Linked DNA regions of Homo sapiens. The protein of the gene in region 4 purifies or fractionates together with the protein of the main gene of each other region. This does not show direct contact. Each region holds a gene or a part of one and is shown on either strand. Other genes may lie near its edges.

Region 1 (6,212 bases), on a different chromosome or scaffold from region 4:
TAATCCCAGCTACTCGGAGGCTGAGGCAGGAGAGTCGCTTGAACCTAGGAGACAGAGGCTGCAGTGAACCAAGATCGCATCACTGCACTCCAGCCTGGGCGACAGAGCAAGACTCCGTGTCAAAAAAAAAAAAAAAAAAAAAAAGTTCTCCACCCCCTCCTAGAAAAAAATTTTCTCCTAGAAGGAAAATTTGTCTGACTCAGAGAAAATTTAGACAAGAAGAGAAAATCTGTTTTCATGCTAGCACATCTGAAGACAATGGTCTCTGTCTCTCATGAGCAGGGATATTTTTCCTTCCCAAATAGATGTTTCTTCTAATAGCTGAGTGGTACTTTCTGTCTGTGCTGTGTTTGAAGTATAAGTTTTAGAAATCCCAGGAGGCTTCGAGGAAGGCAGAGGTCAGCTTCAGCTTATACTGAGGGCCTGCTTGGGCTTCTCAAAGGTGACCAGAGCCCGGGAGGGAGGATGACAGTGGCCCTCCTCAGCCACCCCCATCCCAGGTTTGTTGCTCCTGCTCAGATGCCATATTTTTAAAATACTTTATTTTTTACATAATACTGTCATTACAAAAAAATACAAAAAAACTACTATAAAAACATTCGGGGGTTGTCAAAGTGAGAAAACCTAAAGACCCCACCCCAGGATCTGGCTGAAGCAGTCTTCCCCCAGCTTCTTCACTATGACCTTTATACAACTATGGGGGTGGGGTGGGATCACACAGGCATAAAAGGGCTGGAAATTCCCCACACAGCCTCCAAGGGTAAGAAATGAGTAGCTTCACATATCACAAAAGTGGGATTTGGAAGTTTGGGGGTGGCTAGGCCCTGAGTTCAGAGGTGTGGGGAAAAACCTGTGACCCTGAATCTCTTGGTGGGGAATAGCTGCCACCTGACCCCAAAGCCCTTTCCCTTCCTGATGAAGGCTGGTAGATGGGCCCTGTCCCCCACCTCTTAGCCTTAATACCTCAGGCCCCATTCCCTGCCCTCCACCCTTGAACACTCCTGAGAGCAGCAGGGAGGACAGAACCTCCAGCTCTGCAGGTGTAGGCAGGGCAGCTGTTACGGAGGCTGCTGAGGAGCTCACCCCCCTGCTCCAGATGAAAAGTGTCTCGTGCTCAAGTCCCTGTTCACAGGTTGTGAACTTTCCCTTCTTATCCTCTCTCCTTTCTCCCAGAGAGGCACAGACAGCTCTAGGTGAGTGCTTCTTGTGCATGAATATGTGTGCCATTACCTTGGACACTGTGGACCTGGGGGTGGGGCTGAGAAAGCAATGTCCTTTCTAGTCTTTTCCACCCCCAACAGCAGGAAGCCAAAGGGAAGGGAGGGGACTGGTATTAGCAAAGCTGAGGGGAGGAGGACATGCTATGTACAGGCATGGATAAGGAATCTCTACATATCTTCAAGTAGCACTCAGGTCACTCTCCAGCCACTGCAGTGGAAACTGGATTGAAAGCTAGTGACATGAACATTGACCCCTGGCCTGGGCTAGCTCTCCCCACCTCCCTCCCACTCCCCCCAGGCAGCCCAGCTCTAAAAGGGGTCAGGGACAGGAACATTTTCCTGAAAACCAGTGGCTTTTTTTTGCATTTTAGAAAAAGTTGCCAGTGTCCAGTGGACATCAAGCTGGGTGCACATTGAGTGGAGTGAGTGTTGGGGGTATTGCTGTGGTAGGCTCTGGACTGGCTGGGGCAGAGCCTAGGAACAGGGTAGGTGCTGCTTAAGGATCTGTCTTGTCTGTGGTGTTAATCTGTCTGGGAAGCGAACTTTGAACTCAACAATGAGGTCTCCTCGCTGAGTTGGCACTTTGGGGAAGGGAAGGCCCTCCCCACGGAGTCTCTTCACGGTGCCTGGCTTGATGACATCATTGCAGGGCAAAGGGATCACTCGGCCGTCGATAGTGGGAATGTTCACAGTGCAGCCACACAGCGCCTGGGAAAGACGAAGCAGAAAGTGAGGAAAAGGTGGGGTAAGGTGAGTGGGAAGGAAGGAAATAGACTGAGGTGGGGAAAGAATGTGCCAGCTGGCGGGAAGAGAGGGAATGTCCCCACCATCTCCCCAGCACACACACACAGCCTGACTAGGCCCCACCTCCTTGAGGCTGATCAGGGCACTGTAGAGCACGTTGGTGCCATCTCGGCGGAAGTGTGCATGGGGCTTGTCTTTGAGCACAAAGACGATGTCAGCAGGGATGTTGTCAGGTGTGGCGTCGCCTTCTTTGGGGAAGGTGATCTTGGTGCCTTCCTTCCAGCCACGCTTGATGACTATGTGCAGGATCTTGTCCTCGGTGCGCACAGTTCGCCCATCAGGGTTGAGGCGACGCCTTGTGATCTTCATGCGCTTGGTGGAGCCATGGTAGATCTCCTCCAGGGACACCCGCAGCTCGTGCACCACTGGGGGGTCCTGCACCTTGCGCCGAGGGTACAGTGGTTCTGGGGCTCGCCTTGGACCCCTACTCAGCCCATTGAAGCCAAAACGGCCGAAAGCGCCAAATGGGTCCTCATCTTCATCCACATCCATGTCATCTGGGTCAAAGCCACTGAAGGGCCGAGTGGAGCGGCTGCTGGCAAAGAAGATATCGAAGGGGTTGGAGCCACCAAAGAAGGAGGCAAAGGTGGCATGGGGGTCCCCATGAAAGGTGTAGTGAAAGGAGCCACTGGAGCCACCTGATGTGCCACCGCCGGTCTTCAGGCCTAGAGGGGAGGAGAAGTTAGGGGCAGTGTGGCTTATTCTGGCCCCAATCCCAGTGTCTTCCCCCTGCCCTCTAGCTCCCAGTTCACAGGCTTAAAGAAAGAAGCAACCTTTAAATCCCACAGAGAGGGCCAGGCTAATAGAGTAAGAAAGGCTTCTGGCAAGATTATCTTCCATTCCTAATTATATATTTAATAACGATGCACAACTTGAGATTCAAAGAGGCTTGCTTACCCAATAGGTGGAAAAGCCAGGACTAGAGGACTTAGAGGATGTGACTTCCAGTCCTGTAATCTTTTCCACATACTCATGGTCCAAAGATGTCTCAAAAAGCCTTGAATGACTAGCCTGGTGTCACATTACAAGTGATACTTGGTTCCCAAATCTTTGCTTATCTCCAAAGACATATAGGACAAGGGGCCATCAGACAGGATGTGACCACAGAGGGGGCTGGTAAGTGAACAGTCGCAAATAGGCTAGGGATCCAACCCGGGAGGAAGACCACTTTCACTCTGCTTCTAGCAGTGTTTCCTCTTTCCCTGGCCCCTGCTCAAACGGGAAATCAGGAAGCCTTAAAAAGTGGGAAAGCTCATTAGCTTGGAGATGAAGAGCTATTTTTCTAGAAAAAGTTTTTAAATGCTTTGTTCCCACACTCTGCTCGGTGTTACACAACTTTAGGGAGTGTCATTCACACATTGTACAGACATAGACTACAATGGGAATGGAGCTCCCTGGAGTTATACAACAGCAAACGCCATACCCCACACCTAATGTTGAGCAACCAAAATGCATGAATGGGCTGGCACATGGCAGTGGTGACCTTAGCTGCTCTCTCTGTCAGGTCCTGTCTAAGGGGCTCAGATTCCTGGAGGCAGCCTTCATGCACAGGAGGGGGTGCTGGCAGTAGTGGGGGATGTGGGGAGACGGTTCACACTGAGAACTGCTCCGGAATACAGAGACTATGGGTGGGGTCCAGGCTAGGAAAGAGACCCTTCTCTTTGAGGCCATTTATCTAGAATTTCAACTGATCATGGAGATCTGAGCCTAAATTAGCCTCTTATTTCCTGGGACCACAAGGGCAGATTTGAGTTTCACTAGAGAGGCCAAGTGGCAGACGGTTCAGGGACTTGTGGCAGCTGCCTCTTCACCCCTCCCCCAAGACCTAGGATCTCTCCTTTCCTTCTATCGAGGGGCTGATTATCAAGCGAGTTCAAGCAGCCTGGCAGAGCTCAGTGAGAGAGGGAGGGAGGCTGGACTGATGATGATGGGAAGGGGTAATTCTCTCTATAGGGATTTCTATTCTTCCACTACCACCCCCTTTTCAAGCTGGGAGCAACTTGTCCCTAGCTGGAGCTGCACACAGAGTCTGTGTGTATAACTGCTCTATAATAAATGGCTGCTGGGGATTGGGCAGGGTGGACAGAAATATAACCAACATTTCTAAGCTGCTTCTCCCTCCCCAGGCCATGGAGGTCCCCTTAAGGCCATGCCGCATCCTCAGGGGCCTTCCTGGGATGGGGTTCTGCATCAGAACCTGGTGTCTGGACCCCTTCACTTAGGCAGAAGGGGTGAAGTATCTCAAGGGAGCTCTCCCAGCTCCTGCCTTCTTTCTAAACAAAGGTGAGGCTGAATGGAGGAATGGGTGCAATTCCAAGACAGGTCACATGGTGGCATGGTGTCTGCACTGCTTCCCTCTTTTCCACTCCTATCCCTCCCATCCCTCCATGCCAGAGAGAAAAATGTCTTAGCTGAAAGAATACTGGGGGTTCCAGCCGGTATCTGGTGAATCTGGGAGTTGGCACGTCTAGGAGGTAGGCAGGAAGAATGGAAGGAACCGGCAGCATGGAGAATAGGAAAAGGGAGTTGGGAGGATGAGGGTTCACAGAGGGGCATGGAACACAAGGCCAGGAGGAGGGGAAGAAAATAACCTTCTTATCTACATATGATTAGCCCATTTAGTTTTGAGGATAGAAAGGGGAGGGTGAAGAGGAGGAGAATGTGAAAGAAAGGTGGATTCTGTTGGGGAGGAAGGACAGTTCTTCCCAGGAAGGAGAGTCCTCAGCGTGACAATGTCTCTTAATATAGCCTGACAGGTGCCTGTGGCTGGCGGGTGGCAGGCAGCCCTGAGGGGCAGGCCCAGAATTAGCAGCTACATCATGGCCGTGGGATGTGCTGGGAGGGGCCTCCCTCTCAGAGGCTTTATTTGGGCCTTTCCTGCCTCCCACCCCATGGCCACCAGCTACCCCAGGGAAGGGGGAAGATGCCAGCAGCAGTTCCCCGTCCACCCTTGGATCCCTGCCACTTCCTCTGGGAGGCAAAGCTCCACCTCTGTTCTGCTGGCCAGAAGCAGGCAGGGCCGGGGGAGAGAAGGGGAAAACCATTTCTGCTCAGAGCTCTGGTAGTTAATTCCCAGGCTGCTTAAGGGCCAGACTTTTATGCTGATGAATGTAAATGCTCTGTCCTCAGAGAGCCACACACTCCCTCTCCCCAACCTTCCTCATCAGCCAATGAAGCAGCGGAGACTTCAGGCAGGACTAATAAGGCTGGGAAGGAAAGAAGGGCGGGGAAGGCCTCTGGCTCTTGCTTCAGACCTCTCTAAGGCCTGAACCCGAGGAGGGAGGGGGCAGAGAGAGGCGGGGAGAACTAGGGTGAGCTGAGCTGGGTAGTGGGTGGGCTTCTCTCTTCTCTGGGTGACAGTGCTGGAAACCCTTGCTGCCCTCACCCCCTCCACAGCCTCCAGTTCCCCGCTACACAAACTGGTGCACCTGGGACCCCTACCAAGCGGAGGGGTCCGGGATTGGGCTGGAGTGCTGCCCTCTTACCTTCCTCCCCATACTGGTCATACAGGCCCCGTTTCTTGGGGTCACTTAGCACATCATAGGCCTCTGCAATCTCCTTAAACTTCTCCTCAGCGTTGGGTTCTTTATTCTTGTCTGGGTGGTACTTCAAGGCCATCTTCCGGTAGGCTTTCTTGATCTCATCCTCGTTGGCCCCCGATGGGATCCCAAGAATCTTGTAATAATCTTTTCCCATCACAGCCACTGGACCAGCACTGGTCTCCTTGTTTCTGAAAGAAACCCAGGGCCAAGACTTGATGCCTTCTCTTCTGCCCCAGCCCTGTTCCTGATGATCTTGCAATCCCTAAATGACTCCCTGGGTAACCTTCAGCAGGTCATGCCTGTTCTGTGGGCCTGCGTCCCCCCATCTGTAAAATGAAAGGTTTGGACTAGATGATCTCTTCTGGCTCTGACATTCTAGAATTCTGTGATTCCGTCCTCACCTCCTGGGTTTTCCCAGCAGGAAGCTGAAGGTTGTGGCCCACTCTTGGGGCTAGGCTGAGGCCCTGGTCCTTGGGCCAGACTGAGGACCCCTGAGAGGCCCTGCTGAGCGAGGTGGCACCATGGACTGAGCGACCCACACACAGGAGCTGGCGAAGGTCAGTGTAACGGGTGAGGTCACCTGAGCATCGTGGTCTCCTACGCCACGCCTCAGGCATGGTGCCCAGGCTGAGGGCAGCTGGGGCAG
Region 2 (7,028 bases), on a different chromosome or scaffold from region 4:
CCTATTTTCTTATTGACCCCATGACGGCTTTTACAAATCATAAGCAAAAACTGCAGTCAGACTCTACTCAGATTTCCCGCCTATGCTCCTAGGACAGAGCTGGAAGGGAAGGAGGCTGGGCCTATTTAGTCATAATGCCTCCCCATCAGGTCTAGCTTTCATTCATCCATGAATCCTCACCCAAGGGCCAAGAACTGAGTTCACTGCACCCTGGACCCCTGTTGAGGTAGGAGAAGTAGACGTTGGGAGCAAGGATCCTCTCCTAATTTTGTTGCATCCCCTCAGTGCCCAGCACAGCTCCGGATACAGGGCAGGTTCACAGTCAGCGTGTTCACCTGGGTCTGTGTATGCACCTAAGAAAAGCCTCAACTCTCCTCCAAGAAACAGAAGAGGCAAAACAAACATAAGACCCCCCAAACTTCCAAACTCACAAGCTAAAGGCTATAAAAAGACTGTTTTCATTTCACTGAGAAACACTTCTTTGATCCAAAACCTATTTTTGTGCCTTTTTTGGGGGGAAATAATTATGCCCAAGGCCTGGGGCAAGCTCAAGCCTGCTGGAGGCAGAGGTGGCCCCAAGGGCAGGGCAGGCAGAGAAAGGCCCATTCTGGGGCTGGCCCTGGGAGGATGTGCAGGGTTTCAACCACCTGCCATTTCCCCAGAAGCAAGAAAGCCTCTGAGGTTGGAGTGAACACTGCATGCATCTACAGTGGAGACCCAATCACCATTACAGACAAAAAGCTCTAGAAACTGCAAAGTTGGGGTTAAGTTAGAGTCTAGGAACTGCAGTCATGCACAGCTGGCGACCAGCCAAAGGCATTTTACTGAGCAATGTTTGACTTTTGTAGGTCCCCCAGCAACATTGAGCACATGGATCTCCCTGGCCAGACAGGGCTGGGGTTTAATGTGGAGCTTTCAATGGATCACAGCAAACACTCTCTCCAAACTCCTTCCTGCATGCTGGCCTCACTCCACTCTCAGGTTCCTAGAACCAATGCCACTCTTCTAGGTCCTGCAGAATCCATGGGCAGGGATGCACGGGTTGTTTCTGAGCAAGCAGCATCTGCGAGGGCCTACCTGAAGGACTCTGGGAGGGACACAAGGGCTTTCCCAGAGGGTAGGTCCCTCCATGTGCCCTGCAGCAGCCACGGTACCTTTTCTACCATATGGGAGTCAGTGGGCTGATGGGCTGGTGATAAGAAACAGGGAGGGGGCGTAATGGTCACAAAAGGAAGGAAACACAAGAGGCCGAAGGAGTCCTCACTAGTGTAAGGGGTGTGGGAGAAGGCAGAGGTCCCTGAAAACAGGGGGATGGATTCATAAACTCTCCTCAAATCCAAGAGAAGCACAGCAAGCCAGGGATCATGGGCTCAGAGGTCAGCCAGGCAGAAGATTCTAGAGTCAGCTCTTGTTCTTGTCTTGAGACCACCAGAGAAATTCAAGGCCGGTGGGTGTGTGGCAGAACCAGAACTGGAACCCATGTCTTCTGCCCCTGAGACCTGCACTCTGTGCCTCCCAGAGCTGCTGTTCCTCCAGTCGGGCTGAAGAACGAAGGCTCAGGTGGCCTGGAAGAAAGTGTTTCATGGTGCCCATGTGAGAAGGCCTGGGCGTCCTACCCTGCTATCTACATCTGTAAAGAAGGGCCAGGCCTCTGACCTCAAGGCGTGCTGTCCTGCAGGCTCTGGGCAGGCACAAGGTCCTCCTCTCACCAGTGGGGCAAGGATGAGACATGCTTATGTGGGATCAGGAACACAGCTATTCAGATCCAATTGGGAGGAGGGTGAGTGCTCCCTTGGGGCTCCTGTGGGAGGAAGGAGCTGCTTCCTCTAAGAGGAGGAGCTTGAATCTGCACCAGAGGCTTGGACCAAAGAACTGACCTACCCATGTGAGCATGCCCCTAGCTGTGCCTCCTGGTGACCCTGCCGAAGTGTCAGCCTGTTAGCCCAGCTCCCAGACCCTGGGCCGAGCAACCTCTGGTCATGGCCGGTGGTGCTGAGCTTGGGGACAGGGCCACACATTTTGGCTCTCTACATACTCTGGATTCTATACAATCACGCTGGCCACACATGACAGACACAAGGCACAACACATCCATTAGGACAGCAAGTCCATGTCACACTGCACAAATTACATATGTCCCACGGCACAGTGGATGCACAGACAGACCAGCGGAGCTGAGGGGCAGGCGCCTCTGTGTCTCTGTGCTTCTTGGCTCCAGCTGGCAGAACGAGGGCTGTGCACTCTGCTTGCCCATTTTCCCAGCATTCCCCCAGAGCCCCATGCATCCATCAGAAGTGAAATCAAGAAGAAATCTGCTTTCAGCATCCTGGGCAGGCCTGCTGGTGCTGCTTGGTCACTCTGGGCATTGGCTGAACTTTCATGGGTATAAATTGTCTATCAAGAGATTATTCACAACCAAACTTAAGGACCCACTAGGCTCACCTCCTGAGCACACACAGATAAAATACAATAAATACAACTGATCCCCTAATGTCTGCCAGGGCCCCTGGTCAGTGGCCGAGCAGCCGCGGCTGCAGGGGAGAGTGGAGCAATGATGCGCCTGGGGACACACAGCGGGGGAGATGGCTTCTGGTGGGGGGCCTGCGGCAGGGCAAGCAGGGCGAGGGTGGGCCTCATTCACATGGGCATCGACATCACAGTATGGGTGGCACTGTACAGCAGGAGCCTCACTCTGGCCGCAGCTACTCAGAAAACGGTGGAAACATGCCCAGGTCGGCAAAGTCTTCGATGTTATAGTTGCCAGTCCCCTGGGTTGGATCTCCTGGCATGGGCAGCATGTCCTGCAGAGGAGAGGAAAAGAGAGCCACAGGGGAGTCAGCTCCTCTGTCCGTGCACTGGGCATGTCCCAGGAGCCCAGTCTGCACTCACCCTCATGGCCATCCCTAAAGGGGCAGCCCAGAGGTCCTCCCCAGCCTTCTGCGGGATGCTCTGCAAGGGTCCTCAAATGTCTGAGACCCGGGGAAACTGTTCTCCCCAGGGAGCTGTTGTGACAGCAGGTAAACGGCATTAGGACATGCCCTTTGTCTATCTAAGGTTGAGTCAGGGACCCAGGGTAGACGAGAACCCCACTGGCGGGGAGACCCCAGGCTGGCCCCAAGCAAGGTGCACCTAACAGATAGCAGATGGCCAAAATATAAGAGAAATGCAACGCAGAGTGGAGTGGAAGGAAGATGTATGTGGAGACCTGGCTGGCCTGTCTTCCATGTTTATCTTAGCGCAGGGACGAATCCCTGAATGGTTAGATTTCAGTTTCAACATGTCTTTCCAGTCCTCTGGGCCTCAGATGACCCATCCAGAAAACGGGAATAGCACTATTTTAGTTTCTTACAGCCAATTCCCCAACATGTGTTCTGTTGAATTCTCAGCCCATGTGATACTCTGTGAGAAAAGAATTCTGTGGACAAATAAGTTTGGGAAACAAGGCACACTTTGCCTACCTCCTAGAAATCCAGTCCTTATTGGTGTAATAAAAGCTCTGATACGTCCTGCAATAAAGAAACTCAATAACTTTGTTTAACCAGTTTTTCGTAAGCTTATTTGGCCAAGAATTCTTTTTAGCATCGTGACCATGAAGATCCATGTCAGGAAATTCTGCCTTACAGGGTTGCTGTGGGGCCTCAGAATGGGCAAGGAACAAGGCCTTACAGAAGGAGGAAGGAGGAGATGGCTGCAGTCAGGGGAGGCAGGCGAAGGCCTGGGTGAGCCGTTCCCCTGTACATTCACAGAATGCTGCCCTGAGTGACATCTGAGTCCCAGGCCTTTGTCTGTGAAGACACAGCTGACCCCGGCAGGAGAGGGGCTTGGGATGAGGGTGGGGTATATGGAGCACTGATTCTTGAGAAGGAGGGGTTGCAATCCTGGGAGTCTCAGAACCCTCCCACGATGTGGTTCCTGCCCCTATCATTGCTTTGCAGGGCAGGCCTGGGGCATGCAGGACGTGCCTGGGTTCCTGTTAGAAGGACCTGGAGGGATGGCTGAAGGGGAGTTAATGGGCTCGTACCTCCATTTGAAGCCTTCCAGTAGGAATGTTTCTGGCTGAAAGTTGAGCCAAGGAAGCCCACAAAGGGCAGGGGCCTGCTCTGTGGGGCTGCAGCAGTGCCATCCCCAGCCACACAGTCTGCCTTAGACACGAGGGATGGTCTAGAAAGGTCTCAAATAATGGAGAGTTTCAAGGTGCCCAGGTATCCTCAATCGGGGACTCTCCCTGAGCTTAACCACAGAGGAGAGCAGAGCCAGGGCAAGGCTGGCACTGAGCAAGGGCCTGGGTGGGGATGTCCTCCACATCCTGGGGGCTACGGTGGGAAGAAAGAGGGTCAGCCAGTGACAGACAGCCAAGCCTGGGGGTGCCTGCAGCTCTTAGGAGAGACCCCCTTTGGCCTTGGTTTTGTGCCTCTACCCTGGATAGCTCTGGAGTCTGGGAAGCATCTCCAACTGCAGCCTCCTCTATTGTGTGGCTTAGCTCGAAGGCTACATCAGCCCCTTCTCCTTCCCACATGCACCTGACGTTTCTGGCTGGGTAGGATGGGGCTTTCTACTCCTGGACTCCCTCGAGCCCAGGCTGGGCCAGAACTCACGACGGCTATCGGGCAGGCGGTGGTGCGGCAGAGACCGAGGGGGAAAGGAAGCAGAGAGAAGGCGCCGGTACCTACGAGAAGGCGGTGCTCGCTCGATTTACCTGGAACACTTCAGTCTGACCGGGCTGCTGGTGGGAGTGCTGCTCACCGCTCTGCTGGCCATGGTGCTGGCTTTGCCACTGCGACCAGACTTCCGAGGGCCGCCCTTGGAACTGCCCGCTACTTTGTCCACTTTCAGCTGAAAGATTCGACACACAGGACACTTCCTTTAAAAGCCATCCCGTGGTTCTGTGAGACCTAAGAACCACTGCGGCTGGAGGGCCTCCCGCTTCTGAAAGGCACGTTCCATCCAGAGCTGGCGGAATGTGTTTGCTATCCTCGTCTTTCTCACTGGCTGACAGATCATAAATGGAGTGGATAAGAGACACAGGAGCCCTTTGCCCAATGGTGCAGGTACTTGGCCAGAGAGGATGGCTCTTCCTGAGGTCACCTGCCAGGTGACTAGGTGCTTTAAGCCTTGGAGTGCTCCTTGCACTTGGTGACTGTGCACAAAGGCCTCCTGCGGGCATCTGGGGGGCAAGGGGCATATCTGTTGCATGCAGAGTGTGGGCTGAGAGAGGGTCTGTCCTCAGCAGTATGGTGTTGGCATGAGGAGGAAGACACACCTGCCCCTGCTCCTGATTCCCTCTCGGTCCACCGAATGCTCTTGAAAGGCATCTGGCCCTGCTAGAGGAAAAGCCTCATCTTGGCATTCCCAACCTCAGCCTCTGCCCCCGAGCAACTCCTCGGAAGCCACACACGCATTATACAAGGTCCCCCTACAGGGCCAAGCACCACAGTCTTTTCCTGCCTGGCTCTTTGGCAGAGTGTTTTCTTTGCGTCAGTTTGTTTGCAGGGGAAGAAATTTGGGCACTGGTCAGACAAGATAAGGTTCCTCTGTGGGAATCAGCAAATTCATTTATAAATGAGAGCCACTTTGCTTCTGTCTACAGTTTATACAAAAAAACAGCCAATGGAAGAAAACAAAAAATAGGAAACATAAGTGGAATTGGTTTTTTACATACGAGAAAGAGTCTTATTCCACTGCCCTGGCTGGAATGCAGTGGTGCAATCATGGCTCACTTCAGCCTTGAAATCCTGGGCTCAACCAATCCTCCAGCCTCAGCCTCCCTCATAGCTGGGACTACAGGCTCATGCCACATTGCCTGACTAATTAAAAAACATTTTTTTTTTAGAGATGGGGTCTGGCTCTGTTGCCCAGGTTGGTCTCAAACTCCTGGCCTCATGCAGTCCCCCTGCTCTGGCCTCCCAAAGTGCTGGGATGAGTGAGCCACTGTGCCTATCCAGTAAGTGGTTTTTTGTCGAAAAACATTTTTGAGATTCAACCAAAGAGGATCCAGTAAGTGGAATTTTGTCTAAAAACGTTTTTGAGATTCAACCAAAGAGGAGGCTTAAAAAAATACCTTCAGAGAAGATACCTTTAAGGAACATCAAAAATCTTAGAAGCTTTTTTTCTTGTTTCAAATCATTCAGTACCATTTTGGAGATAATGGGCTCTCTGTCAAGCTCTGGGTGGCAAGAGAAGCCCCATCTTGTCCCATACTACTCTTTCCAACGATCATGCTGGCCACGGGGAAGCCTCAGGCCCCACCCAACCCCCAGCCTGGGCACTGCGTTAATGTGAGGCCAGGTTAGAAAGTGTTCAGGGAGAAGAATCTCTCTCTCTCCCTCGCTCTCTCTCCCACCCATCCACCCATATATAATGCCTGAGACATAAAGGGCTTTAATAAAATGCATAAGGTCCCTTTAATGCCTTACCATTGGTGCTTTTCAAACTCTACATGATGACAATAGTTGGTAAGGAATTCTATAAAATTGAGGCAGGGTACATTCCCCTCCTTAGCATAAGAGAGATTTAAATCTACTGTGCACATAGGATTCTGCTATAAAAAATTCATCTGCCTATGTGAAATGTCTTTTCCTAATGATCCCACACAAGACCCCAAGGGCCAGGAGGAACTCTTTCATAGAATCGTGTCGACTGGCCTCATTAATTGGCTTAGCAGAGGGAAGGCTGGGTCCACAACTGTGGCAAAGTTAAAACAGTAGCATCGCCAGCTGGAGCTACGAGGAAATTCCCACCTGACAGGCACCTGTCCCATTCTGGAAGCCTGCAGAGGCTGAGCACAAGATGGGGCCTTCAGTGGGTCCATGTTGCTTGGCAGAAGGGTGGAGGGACATAGCCACCTGTGCTGAAGGAAGGGCATGGTAGACTGGGGGAATGTCCTTATGCATTCAGGAAGATGACTGCCACACAGGCTCACCCAGGATGCTGCTGCAATGATGGTTTCCTTGGGGCTTGCCCATCACAAATCAATGCCCTCAGCCCTTCCTCCTTAAAGTACATACCTACCTCTCCTTCCCTTTGCCATC
Region 3 (7,028 bases), on a different chromosome or scaffold from region 4:
ATCAATTCTATAAATTTCCATCTGAAAAAGGCTTATTCATTTTATATTTACTTTTACTTCCAATGTTATAGTATTGGACATAATTAAAACAAGAAGTCTCTCCTGAAAATGGAAGGGCATATAAAACAGCCCCTAAAACTTTTCTCCATGAAGATAGACACATGAAATAATAAACTATTTTTATTTATTTGAAGGAATATCGAGAATTATGGCTATGATCCTGTTCTTTGTGATAAAAATACTAAATACAGAAATTGCTTTACTGTTTTGTTAATTTCTTTATAAAACTGCCCTTTTTTTCTTAAGAGACTGAAATGATTCAATTCTTATGATAGTAAGAGCAGCAACTGTAGATTTTTCTATATTTTTCCCAATGTAGAATAATAATTATGACACAATATAGTTTCAATTCATGAAGCTTAAAATTCATATACAGTAATAAGAGAGGAATAATAAAATGTTTTACTTACCTTTCCAGAAACAATCTTTTCATAAATCTGAATTGGTTGGTCTGCAAAGAATGGGGGATAGCCAGCTGCCATTTCATAGATTAGCACTCCTAATGCCCACCAATCCACTGCCTTATTGTAGCCCTGAGATAAACCAACACCAATGTCAATTGTTACTTAAGTTACTCAAAAGAGAATGAAGTCAAAGATAATTTCAAAATGATCTGGAAGCATATAAAAATTTTTTTAAAGCAATTGCTGAGCAGCTATTCAGGACAGAATTTAAAAATGAACCAAATGTATCAGGTCAGATTTAAATTAAACAAAGGAGAGGATTTCCAGATACTGAAATTGGATATTAGGAAAGAGTATTAAATCTTCTTCCTAAAATTATTAAGAATATTATAGACAATGAAATTTTCTTTATTTCACTGGTATAATTTAGTTCTTGCTCAATAACAGGAAGGCAGTTAGACCACATTACTTCTTAAGGCCCACTCTAGGTCCATAATCTTATGAAACAGATTTTCCACAGCATGCCTAGAAAGATCAAAAGTTTTCAAAGAAAATAATAGAAACTGGACTACATAGTAAATAATGAAGTTGACTTCAAAATACTCTATATTTTTGGAGTTAGGAGGGTGAATGTGCTAGGGATAATCCCATCTGCTTCATAGGATTTTGTGAAAGCAAAAAGTTTAATGTAAAATTCAATTCATGTAAATATTTAGGTATACTTTACTTCTGCTATCTACTGTCTTGCTTCCTATATCTAAAAGATATGCAGGAAAAAAATGAATTCACAGAGTTTTGTGAGGACTGTATCAAATGAAAGGGAGTAACGTGTGTAAAAAGTGCTTTGCAAACCAAATGTAAAAATCACAGGTTATGTTTGTTTTTTTCATATTAAGCTTACTAAAATTAAAATTTGTAAGTATTCATAAGAAAATAAATAAGAATAACATCTTCATATTAACATGCTAATATAGTTTATTAACTATGGTCAGTATCAACTGACACAAGAGATTTTTTAACAACCCCAAAAACCTGTCATGAAGAGAAATAAGCTGAATTCTACCCAGATCTATTGCTCTGCCCTCAGAGGTACCCTCTACCATCACGACTCACCACATTCCACCCTTTTGTCAAAATTTTAGCTTTACAAACTACTTAGTTTTCAAAATTCTAGCAAAAATATAATACTTTAGCGCTATAGAGATTTTCTTTTTCTCTTTTTTTTCCTGATACTGTGTATATCTTTTTAAGGGAAGGAGTGGTATAACAGGAATAGCACTTTGTTTTTTAATAGAAATAGGCATTAACTCTCTTTAACTTTTTGATTCATATGTTTAAATTGTGTGCTAATGTTTATAGTAAATATGTCAGACACAAGTTAATACCCAAGGTATAGAAATCAAAACACATCAATAAGAAAAATGTTAAATTACAATAGATAAATGGGCCAAGGAAATGAACTAATAATTTACAGACACATAAAGAAATACCAAATGGCTATTAACCATTTGAAAAATAAATAAAAAACATGAGAATTAAAACAATGAGATACAATTTATTGCCTATGAAATCAGTAAATATTTTAAAAATGAGTATACCCAGTGATAGTGTTATGAAATAGGCACTATAATACACTAATGGTAGAAGTGTAAAATGGCATAATAACTTTGGAAAGCAATTTGGCAATATGTATCAAAAGCCTTAAAAATGTTCCTATTCCTTGACCCAGTAATTCTACTTCTGGGAATATATGCTAAGGAAATAATGTAAAATAAGGAAAAAACTTTTATGTATAAGGATGTTTATCATAGTTATTTATAATAATAAAAAAATCAAAAATAAAACCTGAACACTCAACGATAGAAGAGTGGCTACATATTTTATGGTACATTTACAAACAAGCCATTAGAATGATGTTTGCATGCTTGTTATTATAAAAGTGAAAAAAGTCAGAGACAAGACTATATATATTTACTATGATTTCAACTATGACAACCCAGAAATAAGTCCATACACCTACGACCACCCGATCTTTGACAAAGCTGACAAAACCAAGCAATGGGGAAAAGTTTCCCTACTCAATAAATGGTGCTGGGATAACTGGCTAGCCACATGCAAAAGACTGAAGATAGATCCCTTCCTTATACCATATACAAAAATCAACTCAAAATGGATTAAAGACCTAAATGCAAAACCCCGGAGTATAAAAACCTTGAAAGACAACCTAGGCAATGCCACCCTGGACATAAGAATGGACAAAGGTTTCATGACAAAGACACCAAAAGCAATTCCAACAAAAGCAAACACTGTCAAGTGGGATCTAATTAAACTGAAGAGATTCTGCACAGCAAAAGAAACTATCAACGGTAAACAGACAACCTACAGAATGGGAGAAAATATTTGCAAACCATATGCATCTGCCAAAGGTCTAATATCCAGCATCTATGAGGAACTTAAACAAATTTACAAGAAACAAACAACCCCATGAAAAGGTGGGCAAAGGACATGAACTGACACTTTCTAAAACAAGACATACATGCGGCCAACAAAGATATGAAAAAATGCTCAATATCACCGATCATTAGAGAAATGCAAGCAAGTCAAAACCACAATGAGATACCATTCCACACCAGTCAGAATGGCTATTACTAAAAAGTAAAAAAATGGAAGGGCATAGTGGCTCACCCCTGTAATCCCAGCACTTTGAGAGGCCAAGGAGGGTGCACCACTTGAGGTCGGGAGTTCAAGACCAGCCTGACCAATATGGTGAAACCCTGTCTCTACTAAAAAATACAAAAATTAACCAGGTGTTGTAGTGCATGCCGGTAGTCCCAGCTACTTGGGAGCCTGAAGCACGAGAATCGCTTGAACTCAGGAGGCAGAGGTTGTAGTGAACCGAGATCACGCCACTGCACTGCAGCCTGGGCGACAGAGCAAGACTCCATCTCCAGAAAATAAATAAATAAATAAATAAATAAACAAATAGTCAAAAAATAACAGATGCTGGCAAGGTTGCAGAGAAAAGTGAACACTTAGACACTGTTGGTAGGAGTGTAAATTAGTTCAACCATTGTGGAAAGCAGTATGGAGATTCCTCAAAGAGCTAAAAGCAGAACTACCATTCGACCCAGCAATCCCACTACTGGGTATACACCCAGAGGATTATAAATCATTTCATCATAAAGACACATGCATTTGTTTATTCATTGTGGCACTATTCACAAAAGCAAAGACATGGAATCAACCTACATGTCCACCAATTGTAGACTAGACAAAGAAAATGTGGTACATATACACTACGGAATACTATGCAGCTATAAAAAGGAATGAGATCATGTCTTTTGCATGAACATGGATGGAGCTGGAGGCTATCATCCTCAGCAAACTAATGCAGAACAGAAAACCAAATACCACATGTTTTCACTTGTAAGTGGGAGCTAAATGATGAGAATTTATGAAGACAAAGAAGGAAAAAACAGATACTGGATTCTACTTGAGGGTGGAGGTAGGGAGGAGGGAGAGGATAAGAAAAGATAACTATGGGTACTGGGCTTAATTCCTGAGTGATGAAATAATCTGTATAACAAACCCCCATGACATGAGTTTACGTCTGTAACCAACCTTCACATGTATCCCTGAACCTAAAATGAAAGCTAAAATAAAGCTAAAATGTGTGTGTATATATATATATATATGCATATATATACATATATGCATATATACGCATATATATACATATATGCATATATACGCATATATATATGCATACATATGCGTATATATGTGTATATATACGCATATATGTATATATACACATATACATATATACATATATGCGTATACACATATATATGAATATATATGTATATATACACATATACATATATACACACACACCACACATATGTGTATATATATACACATATATACACATATATGTGGTGTATATATATACACATATACACATATATACATATATGTACATACATATATGAATGTTTTTAAAAAGGCTGCGTCTAGGTTGGTGGGATTACATATAGGTTTTTTTTTGGTTGTTTGTTTATGTTTTTCTGTATTTTCTAAATTTTGTATAATGAGTATTACTTTTACAATATATACACATTTGTAAAAGTTTTAGTGCTCATTTTGTTGTCCCATTATTTGTTAACTGTATTTAAAGAAATGTGTTAACTACAATGATATTTAGATTATAAAATATCAAGAAGTTACATATTATTTAAATTATGAAAGATAATGAGAGAAAAGTTGAAAGAAATCTTTTATTTTAACACTTCTATAAGTTAGCCATATTTCAATGATTCCATTTGGGAACCAGTGAAGCATGTGTCTTATCCCCTTCCTTTTCCTCTCTCCTATTTGTGCCTGGTTATTGTTAGGTTCTCCTTTCTAGATTTCTCCACCAAGTGATGGCAGAGGAAAAGTTAACCATTCTTTTGGATATAGGTACAGTTTCTCTCACCACGTTTCACTATTTAGAAAAGCAGAGCTGCCTTCAATAAGACTAAAACTATTCAATTGCTGTTAATAGTCCTATTTAAAATTTAAAAACACTTCTCATACATTCCTTTTATTTAACTGGTAAATTTGAAACAAAGAAAGAATGGACAACTAGTACATATCATCTCTAGATTTACCTCTTGGTATAATCCAGAGCAAGTCTTCTCTACCCTTCCGTTACTAGGAATAATTAAGAAAAGACTATGTTTTTGGTTGCAAAACATGGATCTAGAGGTCATATTTATTCATATTATATCTCTAAGACCCAGAGTTAAAATTGACAGAGGTTACAGGATTAGTGGTAGATGCTAAATAATAATTCTTTAGTAATCATGCACAAATAGATTTAAATTCATAACTTAGATCAAATTAAAAATGTAAAATTAGATCAATAAACTGTTTTTACAAAAGTCCATAGGGATGCATGTCTCATATTTCTACTTCTTATGTGTTGATATTATGAATATACCTTGCTGAGAATTATTTCTGGAGCCAAATACTCTGGAGTTCCACATAATGTCCAAGTTCTGCCTTTAACTCTTTTGGCAAACCCAAAGTCTGTGACCTATAAAAGAAAAAAAGAATACTAGTGAAAATGTATTACCTCACAATAAATGTATTTATTGCACCTACGTTGAAAGTTTAAAATTCAAATTGAAACTATGAAAGAAATGGAAAAAAAATTAAGTCCACGTAATTGAAATTCATTCATGAATATCTAGTGAATGAAAGTTTAAACAATCCAAGTTGGAAATCCTTCCTCAACTCAAAGAAAAGGAACAAATTAATAACAACAAAACTCTTTTCAGTCATTATTATAAGATCCTAGACCCAAGGAATAAAAAAGTGAAAATAAAAGGTAAAAATAAATAGCATTAATAAAAATGAAACAATGCTAAATGTCTGCCTTACCCCAATGTGTCCTCTGCCATTAGTTGCACCATCAGAAGTGTAAAAACGTCAATGGGAGAATCTATCAATAATTGTGTAAAAAGAAATGCTCCCACTTTATTAGTAGTAGAAGTGGAAAGAAAACGTTGCTACGAGTTCAGTATTGGTAGTCAGGGATTCTTTGGCAGTTATATTGTAGTCGTAAAGGGCATGGACTCTGGGATCAGACTGCCTAGGTTCAAATTCTGACTCTACCATTTATTGGCTAAATGACCTTGCTATGTCTTAGTTTTGTTAATCTTAAAATGAAGATAACAATGGTATTTCCACTTCATAGGTTTATCAGGATTAAAGAAATAATACATGTAAAACAAGTGGAATATGCCTGGCACTAATAACTGCTCATAGATTTAGCTATTAATATCTCCTTATGCAAGAGGCTATACTCAGTTCACAACTATAGATTAATGGAGATATAAACAAGTTCCTTTCATAACAGGATTTTTGCTTCTCTGTAATAGCAGCAAAACTCTGAGCTCTACTTAAACTATTAGGAGAAAGTGTCTTCTTCAAAAAAAATTCCAAGTTGGGGTTACATACATACAATGTCTTGCCTAGTATTTTCTCATATACAGTACACATAATGTGTTAAAGTCATACCTGGATATAGCCTTGATGGTCAATTAAGAGATTTTCAGGTTTTAGATCTCTGTAGATGAGGTCTAGTGAATGGAGGTACTCGAATGTTAGCACTATCTGAGCTGCATAGAACCGTGCATGGGGCTCACTGCAAAGAAATAAAACCATTGATTTTCTGTAAAAATGAGTTAATACATTCTAATTAGTAGATTATGCATAAAAACTAATATGAAGTAGAGGTACTTTGGGAACAAAAAGTATTTTTTTAAAAAGTATGTAAAGAACCTTGTTACTTTTCAAATATTTATTAAATCTCTATATTTTGTTCAAATAACGCTCTGATAAATTTATGGGGAAGCATATGTTGAGGAAAAATATAAACCTAAAATAGTTAGCTCATTGTGAATCATTATTGCCCATATTTAAATATATTGATGTCTTTCTAATTATGTCTGATCTTGAGAATAATTGGAAAGCAAATGTGCCAAATGGAGTGTCTATCGGGGCCACTGCTAT
Region 4 (7,028 bases):
TAGGCTAAAGCAATTCTCTTACCTCAGCCTCCCAAAGTTCTGGGTTTACAGGCATAAGCCACCACACCGGGCCTGGATTTTATTTTATTTTATTTTTTTGAGATGGAGTCTCACTCTGTCACCCAGGCTGGAGTGCAGCGGTGAGATCTCAGCTCACTGCAACCTCTGACTCCTGGGTAGAAGCGACTCTCCTGCCTCAGCCTCCTGAGTAGCTGGGACTACAGGCACGTGCCACCATGCCCAGCTAATTTTTTGTTTGTTTGTTTTGTTTTAAATCTTGCTCTGTCACCTAGACTGGAGTGCAGTGGCATGATCTCGGCTCACTGCAACCTCTGCCCTCCGGGTTCAAGCGATTCTCCTGCCTTAGCCTCCCGAGTAGTTGGGATTACAGGAGCATGGCACCATGTCCAGCTAATTTTTTTGTATTTTTAGTAGAGATGGGGTTTCACCTTATTAGCCAGGATGGTCTCCATCTCCTGACCTGGTGATCTGCCTGCCTCGGCCTCCCAAAGTACTGGGATTACAGGCTTGAGTCACCACTCCTGGCCTGGATTTAAATTTTTTTTTTTTTTTTTTTGAGACAGAGTCTCGCTCTGTCGCTAGGCTGGAGTGCAGTGGTGCAATCTCCGCCTCCCGGGTTCAAGCGATTCTCCTGCCTCAGCCTTTCAAGTAGCTGGGATTACAGGCGCATGCCACCACGCCCAGCTAATTTTTGTATTTTTAGTAGAGACAAGGTTTCACCATGTTGGTCTTGATCTCTTGACCTCGTGATCCACCTGCCTCGGCCTCCCAAAGTGCTGGGATTACAGGCGTGAGCCACCGCACCGGCCTGGATTTTAATTTTAATTGTATATAAATGGCTGCATGTGGCTAGTGGCTTCTGGAATGGACAGCCAGGACCCAAAGGTTCCTTGGAGCTTCCCAGGGGCCAAGGTGGGAGGTGGGGCTCACCTGTGGGCTCTGGCCCCGGGCTGGATGCCTCCTCACAGGCCACGCTGGCTGGAAGCTGGAAGGCATCCAAAGGAGTTTGGCCACCCTCGGCTTGGCTGGGGAGAAGATGGATGCGGTTAGGAGCCAGGGGTCCTTGGCCTCTCAGGACTCCCTCCTGCTTTACCCAACTTGTGGCAATGTGTGGACACTCCCACGGGGAAATGTGGAGTCCCCACCCTGAGGCACTTACAAGGCTCAACACCAGATCCCTAAACTCCGGGTTGACTTCTAGCCCAGCGTGGCCCTCGCTCCTAAGGCCAGACCTGGATAGCCGGTGGCCACCTGGATGTCACCACCTGGGTGTCCTCTGGCACCTCATGCCCATCTGATGTCTACATCTTCCTTTCAAACCTGCTGTTCCTCTCAGGAGCCCAAATCCGGGCTCAGCAAAGCCAGAGACCTGGGCAGAAGATGGTCTCCTCCCCTCCTCCCCCATAGAGTCTGGCACTTCCCAGGACTGGCCCCAGCCTCTGCCCTGGTCCTCCAGCGCCCATCTTGTCCCTCAGTGCCTCCTTCATGGCAGCTAGAAGGGTTTTTTTGTTTGCTTGCTTGTTTTTGAGATGGAGTCTCACTGTGTTGCCCAGGCTGGAGTGCAGTGGCATGATCTTGGCTCACTGCAACCTCCACCTCCCGGGTTCAAGTAATTCTCCTGCTTCAGCCTCCCGAGTAGCTGGGATTACAGGCGTGCACCACTATGCCCAGCTAATTTTTTTTAAATTTTTAGTAGAGATGAGGTTTCACTGTCTTGGCCAGGCTGGTCTTCAACTCCTGACCTCGTGATCCACCCACCTCGGCCTCCCAAAGTGCTGGGATTCCAGGCGTGAGCCACTGTGCCTGGCCTAGAAGGGTGTTTTTTCCTTTTTTTTTTTTTTTTTTTTTTTTTTTTGAGACAGGGTCTCACTCTGTCGCCCAGGCTGGAGAGCAGTGGCACGATCACGGCTCACTGCAGCCTCGACCTCCTGGGCTCAGGTGATCCTCCCACCTCAGCCTCTGCTGTAGCTGGGACCACAGGTGCGTGCCACTGTAACGGGCCAATTAAAAAAATTTTTTTTTAATAGAGATGGGACCTCACTTGGTTGCCCAGGCTGGTCTTCAGCTCCTGGGCTCAGGCAAACCACCTGCCTTGGCCTCCCAAATTGTTGGGATTACAGGCATGAGCCACCATGTCCGGTCTAGAGCAGTCTTTCTAAAAAGCAGATCTGACTATGATCCTCTCCAGCTCTAAAGCTTTCTATGACTCCCCAGTGCCCCTGAGCCAAAAGGCCAGGCCGTCATCTTCAGGCTGGTTTCTCACTGCTTTCTACTCCAGCCCAAGGCATTACCTTTAGGGTCAGGCTGTTGCTTGGAGCCCTTCCTCTGCTTGGAACACCCCTCCCTGCTTCTTTCCATTAGTTGCTGTGCTCTGTGGGCCTCCCCTGGTAAGAGCCTGCCGTGGCTCGCCAGTGCCCCAGAGTCAAGAGTCCAGACCCTCCACCTGAGCCTGAGGAGGCTGTGAGCCTGCCCCTGCCTTCCTCAAAGATACTGTCCCCCTCCCCCTGGCGACTCCTCTCTGTCTCCTGCCAGCAAGACCGTTCCACTCTGGGCCTCTGCTCTCACCATCCTCCCCTCCTTCCCCTTCGTGTCTGCAGACCCCCTGGGCTTGTCCCATTCTAGAAGCCCTCCCCAAAGCACCCCCACTGGAGGTGGGGAGAGACAGCAGGGCCCTGAGTGCCCTGCAGGAGGGGTGGGCACAGCCCTCACCTGAGCACGTGGCTGACCCAAAGCACATGGTGCTCCCCGGGGCTCTTCCCGCTCCCAGCCACTGTGGCCACAGACTGCAGCCACACGAAGCCCCCGGCACGCTGCAGCCAACGGTAGTAACCAGTCATCACCTGACCCTTGTCCAGCACTGGGCCCAGCCCAGGGAGAGATGGGAAGGGGGTGGGGTGGGGACAGGGGCAAGACAGAGAGCCAGGTAGACAGGAGGAGACAGGAGGAGTGAGAGCAGGGGAGTGGGCAGGGAGACGGTGGGGAGAAGAGAAAAAGGTGAAAGCACAGAGAGGCAGAGTCAGAGAGACTGAGAGGTAGCCCAGCAGCGAGGCCTCTTGGGTGTTTTGGAGACCCCACAGCCCCCCAGACCCCCCCCCCACACACACATCCTGAGGCATCACTCAGTCTCCTTGCTGCTCTTCCAATGCTAAACGGAGTCCCTGGAGCTGTAGGTGCAGCAGGAGGGACTGTGGGCAGCCCTGAAGAAGGACTTCCAGGGACCAGGGAGTGGGATGCTCGGGTCTGGGGGGTGGTAGGCAGGCTTGGTGGGTGGAGGTGGGTCTCACAGTCCACGTGGCTCTGGCGGATCCTCGTGGCGTCCTGTCCGTGGACAAACTGGTAGCAGCTGCGGCCCACCAGCTCTGAGGGCCCCAGGTCCATGTGGTCGCTGACTCTGGGGGGTGACAGAGAAGAGGGGAGGAGTCCAAGACCACGGGGTTGGGGGAGAGGCAGAGTTGGCTCCAGAGTCCCCTGGGGTTCACACCCTTGCTGTAAAATGGGTGCAATAACAGTGTTGGCAGGCGCGGTGGCTCACACCTGTAATCCCAGCACTTTGGGAGGCTGAGGCGTGTGGATCACTTGAGGTCAGGAGTTCGAGACCAGCCTGCCTAAGATGGTGAAACCCCGTCTCTACTAAAAATACAAAAATTAGCTGGTTGTGGTGGTGCACGCCTATAATCCCAGCTACTTGAGAGGCTGAGGCAAGAGAATCACTTGAACCCGGGAGGTGGAGGTTGCAGTGAGCTGAGATTGCGCCACTGCACTCCAGCCTGACAGAGTGAGACTCCATCTCAAAACAAACAAACAAACAAACCACAAAACAGTGTCTCTCCCGGGGCAGCTGCGAGTATTCGCGTGGATGCTAGTGGCAAGGCCCTAGGCACCCTGGACACCTCAGAGCATGGGACTATTTCAGCACTTAATTTGCCTCCACTGCGGGATGCAGGAGAGGAAATGGATGAGAGATGAAAGACCAGAGAAATGAGAAATGAAAGACCAGAGACGGGCCAAGATCTGCAGCCCCAGAAGGAGGGCCCGGACCCAAGACACAGCCCCTCTTCCATCCCCGAAGGCACCCCTGGGCTAGGCCTCCGCCCTGGTCCCCTGCCTTCCCTCCCTTCTCCCCATCACCCTGTCCCATCCATTGCTGTTCCGCCTCCCATGGCTCCCCAGTGCCCTATCCTGCAGACCCAGCACTCCCTCTGACTCCCCATGTACCCCCAGATCTCCATTGTGCCCCCAATCCACCCGCCACAGCCCCCAACCCCGGTACCTGCTCTCACAAGCAAGGATGGTGAGACCCAGGCTGAGACGGAAGACGATCATGTGTCCATGGAGTGGCAGCTCAGCCAGGGGGGCCGGGGGCAACGTGTGCCCGAGGGCCACAAGGCCCAGGGCGTGGGCCCGAAGGCGCCCAGTCACGTGGATGACCTGCTGGTGGTGGGCATGGTTGGAGGAGGGACAAGGCGGGCCAGTGGGGGCAAGAGGACCATCACTGGGCTGGGTTCCCTCTGTCCCCCACAGGTGCTGGAGGACTGGACACTGTGTGACCCCCCCAGTCCCATTCCCAGACCCAGTTCCCTAAGCCACCTGCAGCCAGTGAAGCCACCAGCCTGGTTCCCTCGGTCACCCTCAATCTGGGGACATGGCTGCCTGGAATACAGGAGCCTGACTGCTCACACCCACCTTGTACCCTGAGGCCTTGACGTGCAGCCCCCTCTTGGTGAGCGTGGATTTCATGCGGACAAAGAAGGAGCGCTCCTGGACCAGGGAGGAGGGGGGCACCTTGGTGAGGCTGGCCTCTGGGACAGAGAGTGAAGGAAGGTTATGGGGTCCTGAAGAGGAAACACACAGGCCACCCTGACCCTTGCAGAGCCAGCCGGACATAGACACAAGATGTCCGCTGGGCCACGGCCGCACTCAGAGGCATGCCTGATGATTTTGAAAGCTCATGGGGACAGTATGTGGGCTCCCCTATGTGGCAGCCATCCGCATCCTTTCTTTTTTTTTTTGAGACTGAATATCACTCTGTTGTCCAGGCTGGAGTGAATGGCGCAATCTTGGCTCACTGCAACCTCCGCCTCCTGGGTTCAAGTGATTCTTCTGCCTCAGCCTCCCAAGTAGCTGGGATTACAGGCACATGCTACCATGCCCGACTAATTTTTGTATTTTTAGTAGAGACGGGGTTTTGCCATGTTGGCCAGGCTGGTTTTGAACTCCTGACTTCAAGGGATCTGCCCTCCTTGGCCTCCCAAGGTGCTACGATTACATGTGTGAGCCACCATGTCTGGTCCCATCCATGTCTTTTTTTTTTTTTTTTTTGAGCTGGAGTCTCGCTCTGTCACCAGGCTAGAGTGCAGTGGCACGATCTCGGCCTACTGCGACCTCCGTCTCCCCAGTTCAAGTGATTCTCCTGCCTCAGCTTCCTGAGTAGCTGGAATTACAGGCACGCGCCATCATGCCCAGCTAGTTTTTGTATTTTTAGTAGAGACGGGGTATCGCCATGTTGGCCAGGATGGTCTCAATCTCTTGACCTCGTGATCTGGCCGCCTCGGCCTCCCAAAGTGCTGGGATTACAGGCGTGAGCCACTGCGCCTGGCCCCATCTACGTCTTTCTAATGCTCAAACGTGCCTCCACCCTCCCCTGCTCTGAACCTGCCATAGCTTCCTGAGGCCTTGAGAGGAAAGCCCACCTCTCAGGACCCATCCTCCAGGTCTCAGCACAGACTTCTCCTCCTCCAAGAAGCCCTCCCTGACCCTCAGGCTGGGTCAGCCATCCCCTCTGGGTTCCCCTATCCCAGCCCTGCCCCATCTGGGTTGCCACTGTCTGAGGACAGGTTGGTCTCCCCTCACTGGACTGGGAGCCCCAGGTGGGTGGGGCTGGAGCTGTCATGGTCACTCCTATGTCACCAGGACAGGGGCTGGCCCAGAACAGGGGATTGGGGAATAGCAATAAATAAGACTCACAAATCCAGATCCTTCTGTAACCCCTACAAAACGGTCTTAAAAATATGCTCACACACAGATGACCCTGTGCCTAAAACTCAGGTACAAACACAGTCCCACTCCCCAACAGCCTGCACGTGTTGCAGACTTCGCCCCACGCTTGCAAGCACAGCTGATGTCTCAGATGTTTTTGGTGTTAAGCAAACCCAAGATTGGAAAATCCTATTTACAGGATAGTTAGCCTCATAGGCCCCCAACATCTCAGAGCTAAAAAGAGCCGGCAGGGTAATCTGCAGCACCCTCCCTCCCATACACAGTGGGAGTGGAAATTTCCACTGGAGAGAAGGGTTAGGCGTGCTGACCCCGGAACAGACAGACCTGGGCTAGAATCCAACTCAATCACTTATAGCTGTGTGACCTGGGGGCAATTAACTTAACCTCTCCGCGCCGTGCCTCAGTTTTCTGATGTAAAATGGAGATAACACTTCTTGCATTGTGGGCCTGCGCTTAGGATCTAATGCAATTTTTTTTTTTTTTTTTTTTTTTTTTTTTTGGAGACGGAGTCTCACTCAGAGTGCAATGGCCTGATCTCGGCTCAGTGCAACCTCCACCTCCCAGGTTCAAGCGATTCTCCTGCCTCAGCATCCTGAGTATCTGGGATCACAGGCACCTGCACCACGCCCGGCTAATTTTTGTATTTTTAGTAGAGATGGGGTTTCACCATGCTGGCCAGGCTGGTCTCGAACTCCCGACCTCAGGTGATCCGCCCACTTCGGCCTCCCAAAGTGCTGGGATTACAGGCGTGAGCCACCGCACCCAGCCTTTTTTTTTTTTTTTTTCCAGACACTGGCTCTGTCACCCGGGCTGGAGTGCAGCAACGTGATCTCCTCACTGCAACCTCTGTCCCCAAGGCTCAAGCCATCCTCCCACCTCCCAAGTAGCTGGGACCACTGGCATGTGTCATCATGCCCAGCTAATGTTTTTTTCTTTCTTTTGTTGTTGTTGTTTTTTTTGGAGACAGTCTTGGACTCGCCCAGGCTGGAGTGCAGTGGCACAATCTCTGC

The links.
Region 1: the proteins of NPAS1 (region 4) and DNAJB5 purify together in Homo sapiens (affinity purification with mass spectrometry; 2 studies listed by BioGRID and IntAct, with this or other methods). This does not show direct contact.
Region 2: the proteins of NPAS1 (region 4) and ARNT2 purify together in Homo sapiens (co-immunoprecipitation; 3 studies listed by BioGRID and IntAct, with this or other methods). This does not show direct contact.
Region 3: the proteins of NPAS1 (region 4) and PRKACB purify together in Homo sapiens (affinity purification with mass spectrometry; 2 studies listed by BioGRID and IntAct, with this or other methods). This does not show direct contact.

The regions. Positions count from the first base shown.
Region 1 is NC_000009.12:34,992,742-34,998,953, reverse strand, and holds the end of DNAJB5 (dnaJ homolog subfamily B member 5), read right to left. Parts: intron 5,755-6,212; coding exon 5,510-5,754; intron 2,690-5,509; coding exon 2,088-2,689; intron 1,929-2,087; coding exon 1,695-1,928; 3' UTR 526-1,694; downstream 1-525.
Region 2 is NC_000015.10:80,589,373-80,596,400, reverse strand, and holds part of ARNT2 (aryl hydrocarbon receptor nuclear translocator 2), read right to left. Parts: intron 4,834-7,028; coding exon 4,697-4,833; intron 2,802-4,696; coding exon 2,703-2,801; 3' UTR 1-2,702. UniProt on the Homo sapiens protein: Transcription factor that plays a role in the development of the hypothalamo-pituitary axis, postnatal brain growth, and visual and renal function. Specifically recognizes the xenobiotic response element (XRE).
Region 3 is NC_000001.11:84,196,248-84,203,275, reverse strand, and holds part of PRKACB (cAMP-dependent protein kinase catalytic subunit beta), read right to left. Parts: intron 6,661-7,028; coding exon 6,534-6,660; intron 5,548-6,533; coding exon 5,452-5,547; intron 594-5,451; coding exon 471-593; intron 1-470. UniProt on the Homo sapiens protein: Mediates cAMP-dependent signaling triggered by receptor binding to GPCRs.
Region 4 is NC_000019.10:47,036,828-47,043,855, reverse strand, and holds part of NPAS1 (neuronal PAS domain-containing protein 1), read right to left. Parts: intron 4,821-7,028; coding exon 4,705-4,820; intron 4,453-4,704; coding exon of another isoform or gene 4,450-4,452; coding exon 4,292-4,449; intron 3,413-4,291; coding exon 3,306-3,412; coding exon of another isoform or gene 3,126-3,305; intron 2,879-3,125; coding exon 2,731-2,878; intron 1,047-2,730; coding exon 952-1,046; intron 1-951. UniProt on the Homo sapiens protein: May control regulatory pathways relevant to schizophrenia and to psychotic illness. May play a role in late central nervous system development by modulating EPO expression in response to cellular oxygen level.